Regions from separate parts of the Homo sapiens genome. Here all the other regions are linked to region 1. The links come from fine-mapping of genetic effects on gene expression. A gene starts in region 1. Each other region holds a variant in brackets. All regions are shown on one strand. Distances are from middle to middle. Region 1 holds the start of ATP6V0E2 (ATPase H+ transporting V0 subunit e2). Region 2 has its middle 120 kb from the start of ATP6V0E2. Region 3 has its middle 110 kb from the start of ATP6V0E2. Region 4 overlaps GHET1 (gastric carcinoma proliferation enhancing transcript 1).

Region 1 (5,010 bases):
TTCAGCCTTTCAAGAGGCATTTACTACCAGGACAGAAGGAAGAGCAGGCTAGGGTGAGGAGGAAAGGAGGGAGGACAAAGGAACTGGCTGACTTTGAGCTGGGGAGAGTAGTACTTACAAGAGGTAACAGCAGACGGCGGTGGCGACCAGCATGGTGATGATCACTCTGCAGCAGAAGAGGACACGGGTCAGAACAAATGCAGCCAGCACCTCACAAGGCCTGGCCAGGACCAGAGCAAGAAGAGCTCCTGGTGTGAGCTCTTTTCCATTGGCCTTCCTGATGCCTCCTGGACACAGGAGGCTGAGTTCTACTCAGGGTAAGAATAGCAAGGCAGAAAATAAAAACTGAAAGTGTCACCTCACAGAGAGGCCAACCTTGACCACATCCAAGTTGCCTTAAGAATCCTTCCCTTCATTTCCCTTCTCTACCACCCAATATTGCTCCATCTTAATGCAGACGTGTTGTGGAAAGGCACTGCACAGAGCTGCATTTGTGGCAACCCAACAGGGAGTGGTCTGTAGAATTCAAAATTCATGGAGCAAGGGGAAGGAAAACAATAGGCTAGAAGACAGGGCAAGAAGCAGGCAGACTGTGAGCCAGTTCTGAGGCCCAGTGAGTTGTTACAAAGAGAACAGGGACTAGCCACTTTGCGTGTACTCAGAGAAGACCAGAGACAGATGCTTCAAGTGCAGCAAAAGAAATTTCAGTCAAACTGAAGCAAGAACTCACCAAGAATAGCAGGAGACGCAAGACACGAAAATGGTTTACAAAGTGAAGCTGTGGGATCCCAAACCCTGCCTGTCTTTAAGAACAAAGGCAGCACTCACATGTCCAAACGGCCTTTGGGCAAAGCTAACTCTAATCCAAACGAGGCCCTTGATCTTTGATCTAAAGCACTGCAAGCTGGTGCTGGACACAGGAGCACGCGATCCCTTTTTCAACATTACTAAGCAGGTTGTGCCAGTCCTGGCTGGGCACTGAGTAGACAATGGTGAACTGGACAAACTCCAGCCCCTGGGAACATGCAGTCAAGGGAAGGGTGCTTTGTAACTGAAGATAATATGAAGCAGAAACTGGTGAATGGCGCAGCAATCTGCTAGAGGACCTTCGAAAAATAACGCCAGCTAAACTTATCCCATACCTACAAAGTGTCACGCACTGGTAGGTGTTTTAAATGCGTTACCGCAGGTCATCCTCACAGCAGCCTTTTAAGGCAGGAGTCGACATTATCTCCATTTTACCCATGAAGAAACTGAGACTTGATATTGGCTCTAGGTCACACAGCTAGCAAGGAGTGGAGAAACTGCGTCAGTGCCCACTTGTGCCCTTTACTGGCTGCAGGAGGGGTGACAGACATCTCCAATGTCACTCTCCTCTTTACCTTCTGGATATGCCCTCTCGCCCCACCTCCTGCCTGTTCCCGGCTGTCAGAGACCCAGGTGCAGAGAGACCTCAGAGGTGGCGTCCGGGGTCCTGGCGTCCCTCCTGCGGACGCTCGCTGCAGAGCAGGAAGCCGCCGCCCCGGGGCGGAGGGGCGAGCCGGGCCAGGGGGCCGGGGTGGAGAGGTCTGCAGGGCCTGCGCGCTTTCCTTACCCGCGGTTGGGTCCCTTCGGCACGAACCAGGGCCCGGCGATGCCGACGAGGCCCCAGAACGTGGTGAAGATGATGACCGGGAGGGCGAATGAGTGCGCCGTCATGGCCGGGCGCAGGATGCCCAGGCAGGATGCAGGGCCGAGCAGCGGGCGCTGCAGGTGCGCGGGTCCCCAGCCGGGCAGCGCGCTGAGCATGCGCAACAGGAGTCGAGCACCCGAAGCGATCAGCCGGGCCGGGCCGCGCACGCGCATCTCCTGATCCAGCCCGCCGCGCTGTCACTCAGGACCTGCCTAGGAGCCCACTCGCTGATTGGCTGAGCAGGGCCGCGGACAGAGAGAAATGCCGAGGAATAGGGGCGCGGCCGCCCGGTTTCGGCGATGGGTTATAGGGTCCGCGTCAGCCCCGCGCCCGCACAGCCAACGTCACGCCGCATTCTTATTTCCAAAGACCCCTGGAGCTTGGGGTCCCACCCCAGCGGTCTTTCGGGGCGTCCCCTGCCCTTCACGCGCCGCGCCGGCTCGGCCCGAAGCGCCCTGCGGACCCGCAGCCTGGGCCGCCCCGAACCTGACGGCCCCGCGGGGGTCGGACGCGGGAGGAACGGCCTCGCTTTCAGAGACGCAGCGGGAGGGCGGTCCCCGCTGTCCCTCTGGCCGGGTCCTCAGCACGCGTTCTCCTCACTCCCAGGACTAGCGAGCGGCGGGCGCGGACCGGGGCCTGGGGTCGGAGGCGGCGCAGCCAGAAAGGCCCCAGCGGCGCTGAGACGTTTGGGGGAAGGCGGGGGCTTCGCGTTTCGATGGCGGGAAGCGGAATGAGGTTGGACCGGCCGGGCCGGCGTTCAGGGACCCGGCGGGAGGCGGAGGGCTGGCGTCCTCGCGGACATCCATCTGCAGCGAACCAGGCAGAGGCTTTGGGATTAGATCCTTGACTCCTTGCGTCAGTAGTTAAGGTTTGTTTAAATATAAAATGGGATGGCCCTTCTTACAAGGTTGCTGGAGGATTAAATGAATAGGCATGTGGAAAGCACCTAGTATAATAAGGCTCGGTAGTTTCTTCCATCAGGGCTGGAAGAGACCACGGAGCCTGCTTTCCTCCTTCGGCGTTTGGATCTCACATATCCCTTCTTCTCTGGCGATCAAAAATCCCTATCTTCTGTAGAGATCCCTTTTACAGATCAGTGGCCTCCAGGCGGTATCTCTAGCAACAAGTGCTACCCCAAGCGGCCGGCCACACATATTCCCTGGCTTCATGACATAGGGAGGCGCAGTCCCCACGTGATGCAGAAGGGAAATGTGCCTGTCCTTGCACTGACCCCGTCAGCCATGTGTGCTCCTGGCTGTTTTCTGAAATCAAGAACCAGTTACATCCGCCCTTCTCCGTTCTCTAGTTGAAACCTCCCTATCCATCCTTCCAACATTCATGTAAGTTGGAGGTGGGCGTGGGATGACACCAAACTGTTAGGTATAAAATACCATCCTAGCCTTCGAGGGGTTTCTAAAGTAGTTGAGGAGTGATATATTCTGGTAAAATCATAATGCTGGACAGCGCAGTTCTAAGAGCCCTGTGATCAAAGTAGCCAAATGCCCATTATGAGAATTCAGAGGGTGGAGAAATCCAGGAAGACTCCCTGGAGGAGGTGAGATTTTAGCTGGATTGTAAACAATGGTTATTTTTCTCATCCAGAGTGTGTACATTGTTGAGAACACTGGCCTAGGATAAGGGTGCACTTGGCATCCAGGAGATAGAGTTAAGAGTATGTCCATACAGGCCTTCAAAAAATCACCACGAGGGCTGAGCGCAGTGGCTCACACCTGTAATCCCAGCACTATGGGAGGCAGAGGCGGGCGGATCACGAGGTCAGGAGATCGAGACCATCCTGGCTAACACGGTGAAACCCCGTCTCTACTAAAAATATAAAAAAATTAGCTGGGCATGGTGGCGGGCACCTGTAGTCCTAGCTACTTTGGAGGCTGAAAGGAGAATGGCGTGAACCCGGGAGGCAGAGCTTGCACTTGCAGTGAGCCGAGATTGTGCCCCTGCACTCCAGCCTGGGGGACAGAGTGAGACTCCGTCTCAAAAAAAAAAAAAAAAAAAAAATCACCACGAAAGTTCTATAGCTCAAAAAAGACGGACTTTTTGAATTTTGTTCTGGAAAAAAAAAAATCCTCTGTAGAAAATGACAGCTGTAAAGTGAAATGTATTTCCTTCTTTGCCTCTGCTCCTTTGTCTTGGCTTTGGCCAGAACCAAAAACATTGCTGAGTCTGAGCAGCCACTCATATTAGCAGCCTGCAGCTCTTACTCTTTTCCTTTAATGTCTTTGATGTTTCATTTCTGTCCTAATTTGCATGTGATTGCCTGTGTCATTTGTTTGGCAGCTTTGTGATGGTCTGAGGTCCATGAAGGGATTAAAACCAGGAACTGGCTCCTTCTCCAACCACTAAAGCCTCATCTGGGCCCACAAGCCCTGGCTGTTCCCTGGAGCGTGACTGGAAGATGTGAGCAGCTTTGTGCTGGAGCCCCATTTCCATGGGTAAACTGTTCACCTGATCAAACAGCTCCCCAGAGTTCCACAGTACCACATATTTATTTTCTAGAACTTTGTTTTTAGCTGAAAGGGATCTTAGAGGCTAAGGCAATCCTATCACTTTACAGGTGATAAAACTGAGGCCCAGAGAAGTGAAGTAACTTGCCTAGGCCCACACAGCTCATCAGTAAAAGAGCCAGAACACATGGCCGAGACTTCTCCCTAATCCAGCGTCTCCTCCACACTCCCAGCTCACCCCTAGGGTTTGTGCCCAGGCTGAGGACACTATTTTCAGAGGCACTAATGTGAGGCAAAGGGCATGTTACCAGACACAGCCCCGCCTACCCCGGTCCCCTGAGGTGGAGCTGTGCATTCCACTGGCTTCACGGTTCCCCTCTGCCCTGGCGGCTTCTGGTTGGTATTGGCGCCACCGACTGCTCTGCCATGGCTCCTCAGTGAGTGCTTTGGGTGTGATTGACAAGTTTCCATGACATCTCCCAGGGAGTGGGGTCCTGATGTTGGTGACATCTCTATCGTTCATCTTTTCATGGGGCTGATGAATTCCTAGAAAGGGTAGAAGGAGAAGGAGCCACTGAAAGAGGCTCTTTAAAACTTCCCTGAGTGTCCCCCAGTGCAAATGAACAGGAGCCCCAGGACACTTGAAGGCCCTAGGAAATCACACCTCAGAGCCACAGATGCATCCTAATGCTCTCTGCAGACGGGGCACGTGTCGGAGGTGAGAACAACAGCTCCAGATGTCTCTGTCTTTGCAAATAAGGCCTGTGACATTTAATGATGTAACCACCTACCTTCCACCCATTGTTCTGGTGGCCATGAGTAGAAGGAATTATACCAGGATGTGATAAGAAGGAATTAGGAGCTGGGAGTCTTGCT
Region 2 (5,010 bases), 120 kb before region 1:
GGAGCCACACTCGGGGCAAGACCATCTGCTCTGGCCTTCCGAGGGCTTCCGCACTGCTGGCAGATGCTCCCCACGTCCCCTAGAATGGTTTGTGATCTTTCTCTGTCTGGTCCCAACATGCCTTTCCAGCCTCCTCCCTCCCCACGCCAGCAGTTAACCCACGCATCCATCCAGGAGATTTCCCACACAGACTGCACATACCGCACAGGTGTGACCTGCTGGTGATGATCTGCTTTCTCTAAAATGGACTTTCCCTTCTGTCTGCACTTGCTGATCAACAAAAAGCCTGCTGGGCCTTTAAGACAGGCCTCGAACCACCTCTGCTGTGAAGCCTTCCCTTCCTCGTCAAGACCCCAAACGAGGCTCACCTCCCCGTGACCGTGCAGCGTGCTGCTGGTCCTGCCAACGGTGCCCCTCACGGAGCTGTGGTTGGTCCTGTGTTTACCTCTTCGGCCTTTCCACCCCTCCAGAGGTCCGCCTCTTGTCTCCAGGTCTTTGTATCTAACTGACCAGTTGGACACTCACCAACCTGAATGCCATGTGGTGTTCTGGAAAGCTTCCTCTGTAATTTCCAGTTCAGATCAGTTGTTCATCCTGTGCACTCCAGCCTCATCCTGTGCTTAATTCTACCACAACAAACAACGCAGTATTAAAATTGTCTGTGCAGCTTTCTCTGCAGTCTGGAAAGACCTCGAAGAGAACAGACCTGCCTTATTTACTGTGCGAGTATCCAGCTAGAGCCTGGAGCTCAGTAAATATCTGTGATTTCACTCTTTCTCTTTCTCCTTCCATCCCTTCCCCTGTCCTCCTCTCCCTTTCTTCTTTCTTTCCTTCTTTCTTTCAGCACACATCAGTACAATTCCACACAATGGAAAGAGAAGAGTAAACAAAGCAGGACATTTAGAAGGGAAAGTGGAGGAGCAAAGTGAGGAAATCTTATCAGAAAAGGGGTGATCAGCAATGTTTAATATTGTCACAGGCAAGAAATATGCAGGCAAAAAAATCCTTTACATTCTGTAACTAGGACATTGCATGGAGCTTTATATAAAGAGTGTTGGGCTGGGCGCAGTGGCTCATGCCTGTAATCCCAGCCCTCTGGGAGGCTGAGGCGGGCGGATCACCTGAGGTCAGGAGTTGTAGACAAGCCTGGTCAACATGGTGAAACCCCATCTCTACCAAAAATACAAAAATTAGCTGGGCACTGTGGCGGGTGCATGTAATCCCAGCTACTCGGGAGGCTGAGGTGAGAGAATCACTTGAACCTGGGAGGCAGAGGTTTCAGTGAGCCGAGATCACTCCATTGCACTCCAGCCTGGGCAACAAGAGCGAAACTCCATACTCCATCTCAAAAAAAAAAAAAAAAAAAAGAATGTTAACACTTCTTGCTCCTACTGTCTTACTCACTTCTTCCTTCGTCACTCATTCATTCAGTAAACATTGGATTTCTATTTCCTGCCTCCTCCAAGATTTTCTAGGCACTTGGACCTCAAAGATGAAGCTATTCTCACACTCACAGATTGTCAGGACTTTGAGGCTCTATGGGTGATGGGCCTTTACACATTGTACTGTCTCCATAAAGCCCCTCCTTAGCTTCCATTTTTTTTTCTTTTGAGATGGAGTTCCACTCTTGTTGCCCAGGCTGGAGTGCAATGAATGGCACAGTCTCGGCTCACTGCAACCTCTGCCTCCCGGGTTCAAGCGATTCTCCCGCCTCAGCCTCCTGAGTAGCTGGGATTACAGGCACACACCAATACTCCCAGCTAATTTTTGTATTTTTGTAGAGATGGGGTTTCACCATGTTGGCTATGCTGGTCTCAAACTCCTGACCTCAGGTGATCCGCCCGCCTCAGCCTCCCAAAGTGCTGGGATTACAGGCATGAGCCACCGTGCCCGGCCAAGCCCCTCTTTAGTTTCTGTGGGGACCCCTCATTCAGCCACAGACTTGCCCCTTCGATGGCCACTTCATTCTTCCATGTGCGTTTTTCCTTGTTCTCAAGTTGTCTCCTCGGCTTGAGTGTGAAAAACATTTCATACTTTTTAGTATCATCCTTAGGATAAGTCTCATATCTGTGCACTTTCATATTGATCAAAAAAATCACAAGAGGATAACTGAATGGACAACTATAAAACCTCCTGTTTCTCTATTTCATGTCAGACAACCCTAGCTCCCTTAGCTTTGCTTCCAGCTCCTTTTTCCTGATGCTTTAATCATTGCTGTTCCTCTCTTAATGTGCATCATGCACAGTATAGTTCTCTAAAATCAGGCCACTTTAAGCCATCCACAGGATTTTATGGAATACTAATCAGTGTCATGTTCCACTCAACATGCGATCGGATTTTGAGAGCAGTGAACAGGGTGTCCTCTGAGGGCCTGGGGTAATATCCCCATTCTGAATCACAGAGGCCAGCCCCGTGGGGTCAGAGGGTTGGCCTGGTTAGCCTTGTGGAGCCTGTGTTCTCCAAACAGACATTTAATTACTGTCCCCAATGAGTACCCTGATCACAATACTTATTGCTCCAATGGGGTCTGTGGGTGGGGATTGCAAAGGGGAAGGTTGCCCTGCTTAGCTCAAGGGGAGCATCTCCTGAGAAAGCTGATTCCGACAGAAGTGCAGTCAACTCAGCAAGCCTCTTCCTTCTGTCCTGTTCCTAAAACCATCTGCTCATTGCAGGAAGCGACTCCATTCCATCAGCCATACTGATGGCATTAGGTTCTCCTAAAACATCTGGGTTTTCCTTGTGGGAGAAAATCCTGCAGTGAATTTAGATGTTGGTGGTCCTCTAAGC[G/A]AGGGCCTCATTGAGTATAGGAGGGAAATTATAAATGTCAAATTATAAGTGTGCAAATTATACAAGTGCACCCCTGCTTGGCCTCGCAGGGCACCACTGGCCAGCTCCCCGCTCTCCAATTTTTCTTCTGTTGCCGTGATGGTGAATGTTAGTTGTCAACTTGATTGGATTGAAGGATGCCTAGATAGCTGGTAATGTGTGATTTCTGGGTGTGTCGGTGAAGGTGCTGCCAGAGGAGACTGACGTTTGAGTCAGTGGACTGGGAGAGGAAGACCCATCCTCAGTGTGGGTGGGCACCATCCCATCGGCTGCCAGTGCAGGCAGAACAAAGCAGGCAGAAGAAGGTAAGATAAGCTTACTCGCTGGTTCTTCTGGCTTCTTGCTTTATCCTGTGCTGGATGCTTCTTTCAGCTTCTCCTGCCCTTGGACATCAGACTCCCGGTTCCTCCGCCTTTGGACTCTGGCACTTATGCTAGTGGTTTGCCGGGGGCTCTCCAGCCTTTGGCCACAGTCTGAAGGCTGCATTGTCAGCTTCCCTGGTTTTGAGGCTTTTGGACTTGGACTGAGCCACTACCGGCTTCTCTCTTCCCGAGCTTGCAGATGGCCTATGGTGGGACTTCACCTCGTGAGCATGTGAGACAATTCTCCCTAATAAGCTCCGTTTCATATACACATACATCCCACAGATCTGTCCCTCTGGAGATTCCTGACCAATACGGTTGCCCACCCTTCTTTGTCCCTTCTTTGCCACGTTCACTTCTACGGGGCCTCACGGAACCCATGTGGCCTTGCCTTTCTGGAATCGCAGTCTCCTCCACGTGGAGATGCGTCACCTGTAGCTGATGGATAATCACTTGGAAATGCAGCTGCCCCGGACGGGAAGGGGTTGTGCATTTCTCATATTGTTCTTGGCTAGACCTGGAGAAATTTTGCTTCCTGGACAACTTAGTCATATTTTATGAAGATCATTTGTCAGTGGCTAGAAAATTGGACATGTATGATATATGGCTGGGGAGGACTAATGGGCTCTTCCTTCAACACTCTGTCAAAGTCGGGCCAGTGCCCATGGTGGAACGTGCTTTAGTAAGATGAGAGAAGGTGTTTTCATGATTAACAAGGCATGGCATTCATATTTCAAAGATCCCATGACATATCAAAACAGTCTGCTACCGTGTATTTATTTGGTGGCATGGACATGGGACACGTGGTATTTTCTCAGGGACCCTTCGGCTCTGGACCTGTGCTGTGCAGGCATCTGCCTGTACACATTGCAGCTCTTAACCTTTGCATAACAAACAGCCAATGTAAGATTAGGTTTGAGGCTGGGAGTGGTGGCACACCTCTGTGTGTGTGCTTACATAACAAACACTCAATGTAAGATTAGGTTTGAGGCTGGGAGTGGTAGCACACCTCTGTGTGTGTGCTTACATAACAAACACTCAGTGTAAGATTAGGTTTGAGGCTGGGAGTGGTGGCACACCTCTGTGTGTGTGCTTACATAACAAACATTCAATGTAAGATTAGGTTTGAGGCTGGGACTGGTGGCACACGCCTGCGGTCCCAGCTACTCCAGAGGCTGAGGTGGGAGAACGCTTAAGCTCAGGAGGTCAAGGCTGCACTGAGCCATGATTGCACCACTGCACTCCAGCCTGGGTGATAGAGTGAGACTCTGTCTAAAAAACAAAACCAAAAAAACATAAGATCGAATTTGACTCCACCCTTGTTCCCTCTGACACGTAATCTAAGATGTCAGAAGTATTTGTGTCAAAGAAGGCAAGTGGGAGAGACCGGGCCTGAGGTGATGCTCTGTTCCTTCTTTGATGACATCATTAATGAGGAGAGGGATGGCCAAAAGAATCCAAAATGAAAAGTGTGCTGATAACAAAACCAATCACAGGCACAACTAGCCTGGGATTCCAGGCCTGCCAAGGCTGCTCACTGCTGAGCCTGTGTCTGATTCTGTGTGACCAGAGCCTTGGCTGCAAATAACGACCAGCCTTTCCTCATCACCCACCAGCAGGCACCCACCACAGCCCAGTTTGAGGTCCTTTGAACTCACAGTTTTAAAAAAGGTCAGTAGTCAGGTGATATGGTTTAGCTGTGTGCCCACCCAAATCTCATCTGAATTGTAGCTCCCATAATTCCCAAGTGTCCTGGGAGGGACACAGTGGGAGGTAATCGATTCATGGGGGTGGGTCTTTCCTGTGTTGTTCTCTTGAGAAT
Region 3 (5,010 bases), 120 kb before region 1:
ATGCATCAGGATAAGTCCACATTGCAGGCTCTTCAGGGCATGGCCCCGACTCGCTTTCCGGTCTCACTTTTGGCTTGTCCCTCATGTGTACCCTGGGCCCAGCTGTGACCTATGGAACTGTATAACTCCCCTGAATACACTGTGCTCCCACAGATTATGTGCCTGCCCACTCCATCTCCACAGGCCCAATGGAGAGGAGAGAAAGGGGTGGCAGACTCTGCCTATGCGCCCTTGTTTCTTACTCAGAGATAAAAGTTCATTCAGAAAACATCTTGAGTTCCCCCAGGCTCCGTTACTTCCTTCTTTGCTCCCATAGCATTACCTGGTGAAAAGTGCTTCTGTTGCAAAACTTATGTTCATGTGTCTGCCTCACTTCTCCATGAGGGGCTCAGTTTCTTAAGAGGAGGAACAGAAAGGCTAGGTCTGGTCTCTGCATCTCCAACCGCTAGGCCAGGCGTTATATCCTTGGTGCGTGTTTATAGAATGTGATGGTAGACATGGAGTGTGGTGGGGTGAGCAGAGCAGATGTGATTGACATTCTGGTGAAAAGGCTGAGCAAACACAGGACCCACTGCTCTGTCCCTGCACTGGGCTGCGTGCTGGAGATTCAGTGGCCACTCATGCTGCTGCTGTGTTCTTGTGGAGGTAAGAGGCAGTGGGTAGAGGAGCAACAGGTGATATGTGAATGCTCCTGACTTTGTAGGAAATGGGAAAGGGGCTGATGGGTGGGGGTGCACGTGGGTGAAGGAGGTCTGGGAAGGTGTCTCTCCTGAGAAGGCAGCAGCTGGGCTGGGAATGAAGGGTGCAATGGAGCTCACTGACAACCCAGGCACAGGTGAGAGCAGGTGCAAAGTCCCTGGAGAGAAAAGAGGCTGAAAGGCTGGAGGAAAAATTGAGACCCGTGTGGGGAGGGATGGATGAAGGTTCAGATCAGGGGCCTCCGGAAGTGAGGGAAGGAGCAACGCACTGACGCCGAGTGCTTTCAAGCAGGGGAGTGCAGAGAATGGATTTCACCTTGAAAAGTGAATGTGGACCATAACAAGTGTTGGCGAGGATGTGGAGAGAAGGGAACCCTCACACAGTGTTAGAGGGAATGTGAGTTTTACAGCCATATGGAAAATAGTGTGGAGGTTCCTTAAAAAAAATCCAAAATAGAATTACTGGATGATCCAGCAATCCCACTTCTGGGTTTAGAACCAAAGGAACTGAAATCAGCTTGTCAAAGAGACATCTGCACTCCCATGCTCACTGCAGCACTGTTCTGGATGGCCAGGATATGGAAACATTCCCTGTGCTCATCCACAGATGAATGGATAAGAAACGTGTGGTGTATGCACACAATGGAATACTATGCAGCCTTAAAAAAGCAGGAGAGTCTGTCAATTGTGACAACATGAATGAACCTGGAGGACATTGTGTTAAATGAAATAAACCAGGCACAGAAAGACAAATACCACATTATGTCACTTGTGTAGAATCTTAAAAAGTCAAAATTACAGAGGCAGAGACTAGCTCAGGGATGGTTGGGGGTGGGTTGGGGAGATGTTGGTACAAGGATATAAAATTTCATTGGACAGGAGGCATAAGTTTTTGAGATCAATTGCACAACATGGTGACTATATTTAATAATGTAAAGTATGTTTCAAAAATTGCTAAGAGAGTAGATTTTAAATATTTGTACCACACACCCACAAACATAAGTCTGTGAGGTGATATATATGTTAACTATCTTGATATAAGCATTCCATATGTGTATATGTATATCAAAACATCATGATGGACCCCATGAATATATGCAATTATTATTTGTCAGTTTTAAACATTTTTTTTAAATGAACATGGAGGTTGGGGAACCTTACCAGGGTTCTTTTGGTCTCTGCCTTGCCTGGGGCCCAGAAGTGGTGGTGAGGGGTTGCTCCCTACTCTGGAGCTCTGGATGCTGATCAGAGACCCTCCATGCCTGGTGACATCTCAGACTCAGTGAACAGCCTCAGGGGCCCTTCACAAAACTGGGCTGTCAGGGCCACCTGGAGCTCAGAGTGGTAATTTGGTTTCATTTGAACTTCAATTTTCGTTGCTTTGAAATCTCATTCAGTTGAATTTAATAACAAATAAATAATTCATGGGGACTGGACAATGAAAGGAAAATTTAAAAATGTGTTCACCCAAATATATAAAGGGGCACCTTGTCCCTCAGCCCTGTTCTCTACCTTCTTTTCTCAGCTGGCTTCTGGGCAGATTCATGGGGCCAAAGGATGATGCATTAACTCTCTCAGGGTGCTGAGGGTTCTCTCATCATGAGACTTCTGTGGGTTAGGGACTGGGCAAGAGGTGAGCAAGTATCCCACCTCTGGCAGGCCAGCCTCTCAGCCACCAATTTGCTAAGTGGCCCAACGGTCATCTCTGAGCCTTCTTTCCTTGCTTGTAAAATGCAGAAATCTTTAGTAAACCAATTGATGTAGGCAAATGTCATGAATGGATACACAGTCATCTCAGGGAATTTACATGGTGCTAAAGTATCACTCCAGGGATCATCTGCTGGTTGCAAGGGGAGAAATGTGACTTTATCCTGGAGAACACCGATGCTCTCCGCCTTATCAATTCCTGCATCCCTAACACTGGGACAAGCAGATATCCTTCCATGCCCCATGCGGTGCTTAGCATCACCTGTGAGGTAATGCCAGAAATGTGTGAGCTGAACTTAATCAAGCTCTTAGGTCTAACTTTCAGTGCGTAACTAATACAGGCTGCAGAGCGTCCAGCTAATGCACACCAGGAGGAAACAGCCAGACAAATCCAGAAGGTGGAAACGTGGAGGCAACAACTCGCCCATTCCTTCCAGCAAGCCAGCAATGTG[C/T]GGTGGGCTGGGGAGCCACTGGGGCAGACACGTTCTAAGTTGAAATATACGTTACCACCAACCAAGGGCAATTCCTGGGCCTTGGCTAAATCCTTACCTATACAAACCAGCTATACCAGTCATTTTAGAGTAATTGGGGAAGTTATTACATGAGATTAGAAAATTGTATTCAGTTTTTAAGTGTGAAAATGTTCTTTTTCTTTTTTAAAAAAGCTTTTATTTTAGGTTCAGGGGCACATGTGCAGGTTTGTTATATAGATAAGCTTATGTCATGGGGGTTTGTTGAACAGATTCTTCTTAATTATACAGGAAAACGTCTAGAACTTGTGGTCTCTCTTCTTTAGCGTTGCTCACTGAGATTTTTTAAAAAGATGCATCCTGAATGATTTCGAGGCATGATGTTTTGGTACCTGTATGCAATTGAAATAATTTTTAAAATAGATATGGAGAAAATATGAAAACTAACAATTTTCAAAATTTTAATGAGGAGCATATGAAAATTATACTCTAGTATGCTGTTACTTTTCTTTTCTTTTTTTATTTTTTATTTTTTCTTTTTTGAGACAGTCTTGCTCTGTCGCCCAGGCTGGACTGCTGTGGCACAATCTCAGTTCATTGCAACCTCTGCCTCCCAGGTTCAAGTGATTTTCCTGTCTCAGCCTCCTGAGTAGCTGGGATTATGGGGCACCCACCACCATGCCCAGCTAATTTTTGTATTTTTAGTAGAGATAGGGTTTCACCATGTTGGCCAGGCTGGTCTGGAACTCCTGACCTCAAGTGATCCACCCGCCTCAGCCTCCCAAAATGCTGGGATTACAGGCGTGAGCCACAGCGCCTGGCCGCTGTTAATTTTCTAATCTTTAAAAATAATAATAGTTTTTTAAAAAGCTGCTCACAAAGATTTTATTGATGATGTGTGCATTTTTTTTTCCTCTGGTAGGACATAATTCTCCCTGAGAAGGGGAAAGACAGTAAGAATTTTGTGAGTTGCATAATAGTCCATTGATTACCCTTTGTCCCCCAGTGGAGGGCACTAAACCCCTGAAGAAGCAGGCCCCTGTGTGGGCGTGTTATGATTGTAGAACAAGGAGAGGGGACCCTCCAGTACTCAGTGTCTTTAGTGGGTGGGGCGGGGGCTTCAAGGCAGTAGCCTCAGATACCTGCGGGGCCCATGCAGGGAACCCTAATTGGGGTGCAGGGTGGGGGAGCAACAGAATGCAAAATAGCTCTTAGTACCTTACCTAAATATTGGTTGCTAGATTTTTTCATTGACTGGAAGCTTTCATTTGGCTCTGGATAGAAGTGTGGGCAGTCACACAAGTCAAGGTAAGAGGGGTGGAAACTGGTTTTTGCTGGTGCTTCCTAACATTTGTCAACTGTGGCTTTCAGGCTACCAATGGGTGGGGAGTTTTGTGCGAGAAAATGGGCCAGATTTGCATCCTGGTGTTCTCCAAATGATGTTAAATGCAGAAACATTCAATGCAATGAGTTTGTTCAATTCCATCCAACTAAAAATTGTGTTTGTGCTATTAGTGCCTACCCTCTGATCAGTCTTGTACTAGGTAGGAAACATGGTGCTTACCCTTTACTAAGGAGTTGTGTTACACGAAACAGAAAACACTATGACTGAATCAAAAAGAAGCATCACTCTGCTTGGGTAGTCAGGGAAGAATCTTGATTTCCCCTGGAATCTGGTACTTACCTCGCGGTGAATACACAATAACAGCCAGAGTTTTAAAATAGACAAGAAGGACAGAAATCAGAGAGAAACACACAGACACATCAGACCCCTTATCATAAGGTACAAACAGTAGAGCAGAAGGGAGACCACAAACTTCCATTCTTTATGGGATGAGCGAGAAAGGGGATGGAGGCTTTGGCAATGTTGAGTGGGTTTTCCACAGGAACAGCCAGCCCCAACTGATGTGTAGTGATTTCCTAGGAAGTTTGCAAACCTCATCCCACCAAGAGGAAATGGGTCGGGAGTTCTCCATCATCTGGAGGTCACAGAGCAGACAGACCATGGCCCAGGACAAGATCTAGAAGTTGTTATTTTATTCAAAGTCAGAAAACCTTCCAGGGTCTGGGGATCAGTGTCTGGATAGAAGAGAAAATACAAGAGAAAGCAAGAGGTTAATGTGGGCTGAAGGCTT
Region 4 (5,010 bases), 880 kb after region 1:
CTTCACAAGACCGTCAAGAGGACCAGATCAAATGGGATACTATTAGTTGAAAGCATTTTAAAGAACTGGGGTGGGGGCCAGGCATGGTGGCTCATGCCTGTAATCCCAGCACTTTGGGAGGCTGAGGCAAATGGATCATTTGAGGTCAGGAGTTCGAGACCAGCCTAACCAACATGGTGAAACCCCATCTCTACTAAAAATACAAAAAATTAGCTGGGCATAGTGGCATATGCCTGTAGTCCCAGCTACTCGGGAGGCTGAGGCAGGAGAATCACTTGAACCCAGGAGGCAGAGGTTGCAGTGAGCTGAGATCGCGCCACTGCACTCCAGCCTGGGCGACAGGGCGAGACTCCGTCTCAAAAACAAAGAAACAAAAACAAAAAACTGGGGTGGAATTCACATAACATAAAATTAACCATTTTTAAGGGTACAGTTCAGGGGCGTTTAGTACATTCTCGCTGTTGTACAAAACTAGTTCCAAAACATTAATAGCCCCAAAGGAAATCCTGTAGCCATTAAACAGTCATGCCCTCCAGCGCCTGGCAGTCACCAATCTTCATTCTGTCTCTATGGATTTGCCTATTCTGAACATTTCATATAAATGGAATCCTACAATATGCGACCTTTTATGTCTGGCTTCTTTCACTTAGAATAATGTTTTCAAGGCTCACCCATGTAGGATGTGTCAGAACATCCTTCCCTTTTTTTTTTTTTTTCTTTTGAGACAGAGTTTTGCTCTGTTACCCAGGCTGGAGTGCTGGAGTGCAGTGGCGCGATCTCGGCTCACTGCAAGCTCTGCCTCCTGGGTTCACGCCATTCTCCTGCCTCAGCCTCCCGAGTAGCTGGGACTACCGGTGCCCGCCACCACACCTGGCTAATTTTTTGTATTTTTAGTAGAGACAGGGTTTCACTGTCTTAGCCAGGATGGTCTCAATCTCCTGACCTCGTGATTCACCTGCCTTGGCCTCCCAAAGTGCTGGGATTACAGGCGTGAGCCACCGCACCCGGCCTCGTCCTTCCTTTTAATGGATGGATAGCATTCCATTATACACGCGTACCCCCGTCGTTTATCCATTCTTGCTTCAGCGGACACTTGGGTTGTTTCCACATTTTGGCTATTGTGAATAGTGCTGCTGTGAACATTTGTGCTCAGACTTGTGTGTGGACATGTTTTCTGCCCCTTGGGGTATATACTTAGGAGTGGAAATTTGGGGTCATATGGTAGTTCTGTATTTAACTTTTTGAGGAACCACCAAACTGTTAGTTGAAAGCATTTTTGCAAAGTCAAGAATCACTCACCTGGAGGAAGTGTGTGTCACCATCTTGCTCACCTTGCCCTGGGCAGTTCTTCTTTGTTGACGTCTTTTTTAAAATATGGGACCCCAAACTGACCCCTGGGCCCTGGGTTCCACCCAGTGAGAACAGACTTCAGGGACAATGACAGCCTTCTGTGAAACTACACAAGTATTTGCATTTTTACTGTGTGGGATTCTCTTATCTGGTACTTGGTCAGATTTGTTGTTTTTTAACTGAAAAGGGAAACTTCAGCTCTGATAATTTATGTCTGTTACCTTGTTAGTTTATGTCTGTTTCTTGTTAGCTTGTGTCCAGTCAGCCAGGAAAAATGATTCTGAACCCTGAGAGCTAACATTCTTTTTTAAAAAATTTTTTTTTGAAATGGAGGCTCTCTCTGTCTCTCAGGCTGGAGTGCAGTGGCGTGATGTTGGCTCACTGCATCCTCTGCCTCCCGGGTTCAAGCAATTCTCCTACCTCAGCCTCCCGAGTAGCTGGGATTACAGGCATGCACCATCACACACAGCTACTTTTAGTATTTTTAGTAGAGACAGTTTTGCCATGTTGGCCAGGCTGGTCTTGAACTCCTGCCCTAGGTGATCTGCCCGCCTTGGCCTCCCAAAGTGCAGGGATTACAGGCGTGAGCCACCGTACCCAGCCTTTAATTTTTTAAAAGCTTCTATTTCCATAGATTTTGGGGGAACAGGTGGTATTTGGTTACATGAGTAAGTTCTTTTTTTTTTTTTTTTTTTTTTTTTTTTTTTTGAGACAGAGTCTTGCTCTGTCGCCCAGGCTGGAGCGCAGTGGTGCGATGTTGGCTCACTGCAAGCTCCGCCTCCCAGGTTCACATCATTCTTCTGCCTCAGCCTCCCGAGTAGCTGGGACTACAGGCA[TG/G]TGCCACTATGCCCGGCTAATTTTGTATTTTTAGTAGAGGCGGGGTTTCTCCATGTTTGTCCGGCTGGTCTCAAACTCCCGACCTCATGTGATCTGCACACCTCGGCCTCCCAAAGCACTGGGAATACAGGTGTGAGCCACCCCACCCGGCCCAGAGAACAGCTTTGTCTCTTTCGAGAGAGAGGTGCACCCAAATGGGACCTCCAGACCTCAGTGGAGTGCACCGGATTTTATAGGCAGGCTTGAGGAGGCGGTGTCTGATTTACCAGGGACCCAAAGATGGGTTGGACCAGGTGTGACATCTACATAGCATGAGAGGAAGCTGGGACTACAGGCACCCACCGCCATGCCCGGCTAATTTTTTTTTTGTATTTTTAGTAGAGACGGGGTTTTGCCATGTTAGCCAGGATGGTCTCGATCTCCTGACCTCGTGATCCGCCTGCCTCGGCCTCCCAAAGTGCTGAGACTACAGGCGTGAGCTACTGCGCCCGGCCATGAGTATGTTCTTTAGTGGTGATTTGTGAGATTTCGGTGTGCACCCATCACCAGAGCAATATACACTGAAATCAATTTTTAGCCTTTTAATCCTCATCCCCTTCCTACCCTTTCCCCCACAAAGTCCCAAAGTCCATTGTATCATTTTTATGCCTTGGCATCCTCAGAGCTTATTTCCCACTATAAGTGAGAACATACAATGTTTGGTTTTCCATTCCTGAGTTACTTCACTTAGAATAATAGTCTCCAATCTCATCCAGGTTGCGGCAAATGCCATTAATTCACTCCTTTTTATGGCTGAGTAGTATTCCATTGTATATATATGCCACAGTTTCTTTTTTCTTTTTTTTCTTTCTTTTTTTTTTTTTTTTTTTTTTTTTTTTTTTTTTTTTTTTGAGACAGAGTCTTGCTCTGTTGCCAGGCTGGAGTACAGTGGTGTGATCTTGGCTCACTGCAACCTTCGCCTCCCAGGTTCAAGCGATTCTCCTGCCTCAGCCTCTTAAGTAGCTGAGACTACAGGTGCACGCCACCACACTCGGCTAATTTTTGTATTTTTAGTAGAGACAGGCTTTGACCATGTTGGCCAGGATGGTCTCAAACTCTTGACCTCGTGATCCGCCTGCCTCAGCCTCCCAAAGTGCTGGGATTACAGGCGTGAGCCACGGCGCCCAGCCCTATGCCACAGTTTCTCTATCCATTTGTTGGTTGATGGGCATTTGGGCTGGTTCCATATTTTTGCAATTGCGAATTGTGCTGCTACAAACATGCATGTGCAAGCATCTTTTTCATATAATGACTTTTTTTTTCCCCTCTGGGTAGATATCCAGTAGTGGGATTGCTGGATCAAATGGTAGATCTACTTTTAGTTCTTTAAGGAATCTCCACACTGTTTTCCATAGTGGTTGTACTACTTTACATTCCCACCAGCAGTGTAGAAGTGTTCGCTTTTCACCATATCAACACCAACATCTATTATTTTTTTGATTTTTTTTTTATTATGGCCATTCTTGCAGGAGTAATGTGGTATTGCATTGTGGTTTTGATTTGCATTTCCCTGATCATTAGTGATATTGAGCACTTTTTCATATGTTTGTTGGCCATTTGTATATCTTCTTTTGAGAATTGTCTATTCATGTCCTTAGGCCAGTTTTTGATGGGATTGTTTTTTTCTTGCTAATTTGAGTTCCTCGTAGATTCTGGATGTTAGTCCTTTGTCGGATGTATAGATTGGGAAGATTTTCTCCCACTCTGTGGGTTGTCTGTTTACTCTGCTTACTGTTCCTTTTGCCGTGCAAAAGGACAGCTAACATTCTTATAGTTTCTTTTTTTAATGTGCCAGTAAACTCTATGTGGCTTCTCAGTTAATCTTCCCAACACCCTATAAGATAGATACTTCGATTATGACCATTTTCTAGATGGAGAAACTGAGGCTCAAGCAAGGTAAGTGACTTGACCAGAGATAGCTAGCTAGTAGCTGGTGAAAACTAGGACTCAAGCTGAGATAATGTGGCTGCAGCCCGTGCTGTTCATCTCTAATGCCTGCCGGATTCTCACTGCATATCATGACACCTATTGGGGCATCAGTCAATTTGATTAGTCAGCTTCAGTGTCTTCATTTGTGGGGTTGTTGGAAACAGATGAGACAGGATCTGGCTGAGAAACAGCCCCAGAAACCTCCTCTCCCAGAATGGCACCAACCCCCCTTCCCTGCCTCTGAGCCTGGCCACTGGGTGGACTTCCAGTCCACATAGTAGACTAGATCACCCCCAGTGCATGCAAAGGCAGAGTGAAAGGTATAAACAACTTAGTCAAATCAAGCTGTACAATGAAAAACAAAAGGAAATAAAACTATTCTGGCGCACACCTTTTTCTTATTAATTTCAAGTTGGCTGCCAATGTTTACCTGCTTTGTTCTTAAAATAATCCATTCTAGAATTTTGCTAGAGAGCAACATCGTTTAGAGATTGTCATTTATGAAACTCTCACTCTCATTTTCCCCTCTTTTGAAATTAGGACAACATCTACCCATGTCTAGTTTTCTGGGGTTATTCATTCTCCTCAATGGCATTCATTCATTCATTCACTCAACACATTTACATAGCACCTGCTGTGTCCCAGATACTGTGCTAGGTACCAGAAGGAGTCAAACATAGTCAATGATTCTGCTTTTCCATTGGCTTGGGGCATCCAGGAACACATTTTCTCAGGCTTGGAGATGTGAACTCCAATGGGCAGCTGCCTGCCCTTCCCCTCCCCTTGCCTGCACCTTTACAGTAAGGTCTACTCGCCGCTGCAGCAGGAAGATCCTCCATTAGGAGTAAAACAGAG

The links.
Region 2: its variant is fine-mapped to the expression of ATP6V0E2 in prostate (GTEx, PIP 0.94).
Region 3: its variant is fine-mapped to the expression of ATP6V0E2 in nasal epithelium (TOPMed, PIP above 0.99).
Region 4: its variant is fine-mapped to the expression of ATP6V0E2 in left ventricle (GTEx, PIP 0.96).

What each region holds. Positions count from the first base shown.
Region 1 is chr7:149,870,754-149,875,763 of GRCh38, reverse strand. ATP6V0E2 (ATPase H+ transporting V0 subunit e2) reads right to left here and starts at 1,795. Exons shown (of 4, transcript NM_145230.4): 1 at 1,595-1,795; 2 at 119-166. The coding sequence starts at 1,698. ATP6V0E2-AS1 (ATP6V0E2 antisense RNA 1) reads left to right here and starts at 1,902. Exons shown (of 4, transcript NR_027040.1): 1 at 1,902-2,540; 2 at 3,968-4,122. RefSeq lists silencers at 1,359-1,538, 1,949-2,028, 2,059-2,268 and enhancers at 1,559-1,698, 1,028-1,996.
Region 2 is chr7:149,991,202-149,996,211 of GRCh38, reverse strand. It overlaps a transcript of ACTR3C not described here. Among named protein-coding and RNA genes, the nearest start is that of ATP6V0E2, 120 kb to the right of the region's middle. The variant G/A (reference allele first, on the strand shown) is at 2,788.
Region 3 is chr7:149,985,972-149,990,981 of GRCh38, reverse strand. It overlaps a transcript of ACTR3C not described here. Among named protein-coding and RNA genes, the nearest start is that of ATP6V0E2, 110 kb to the right of the region's middle. The variant C/T (reference allele first, on the strand shown) is at 2,858.
Region 4 is chr7:148,988,077-148,993,086 of GRCh38, reverse strand. GHET1 (gastric carcinoma proliferation enhancing transcript 1) reads right to left here. Exons shown (of 1, transcript NR_130107.1): 1 at 3,658-5,010. Among named protein-coding and RNA genes, the nearest start is that of GHET1, 3.1 kb to the right of the region's middle. The variant TG/G (reference allele first, on the strand shown) is at 2,187.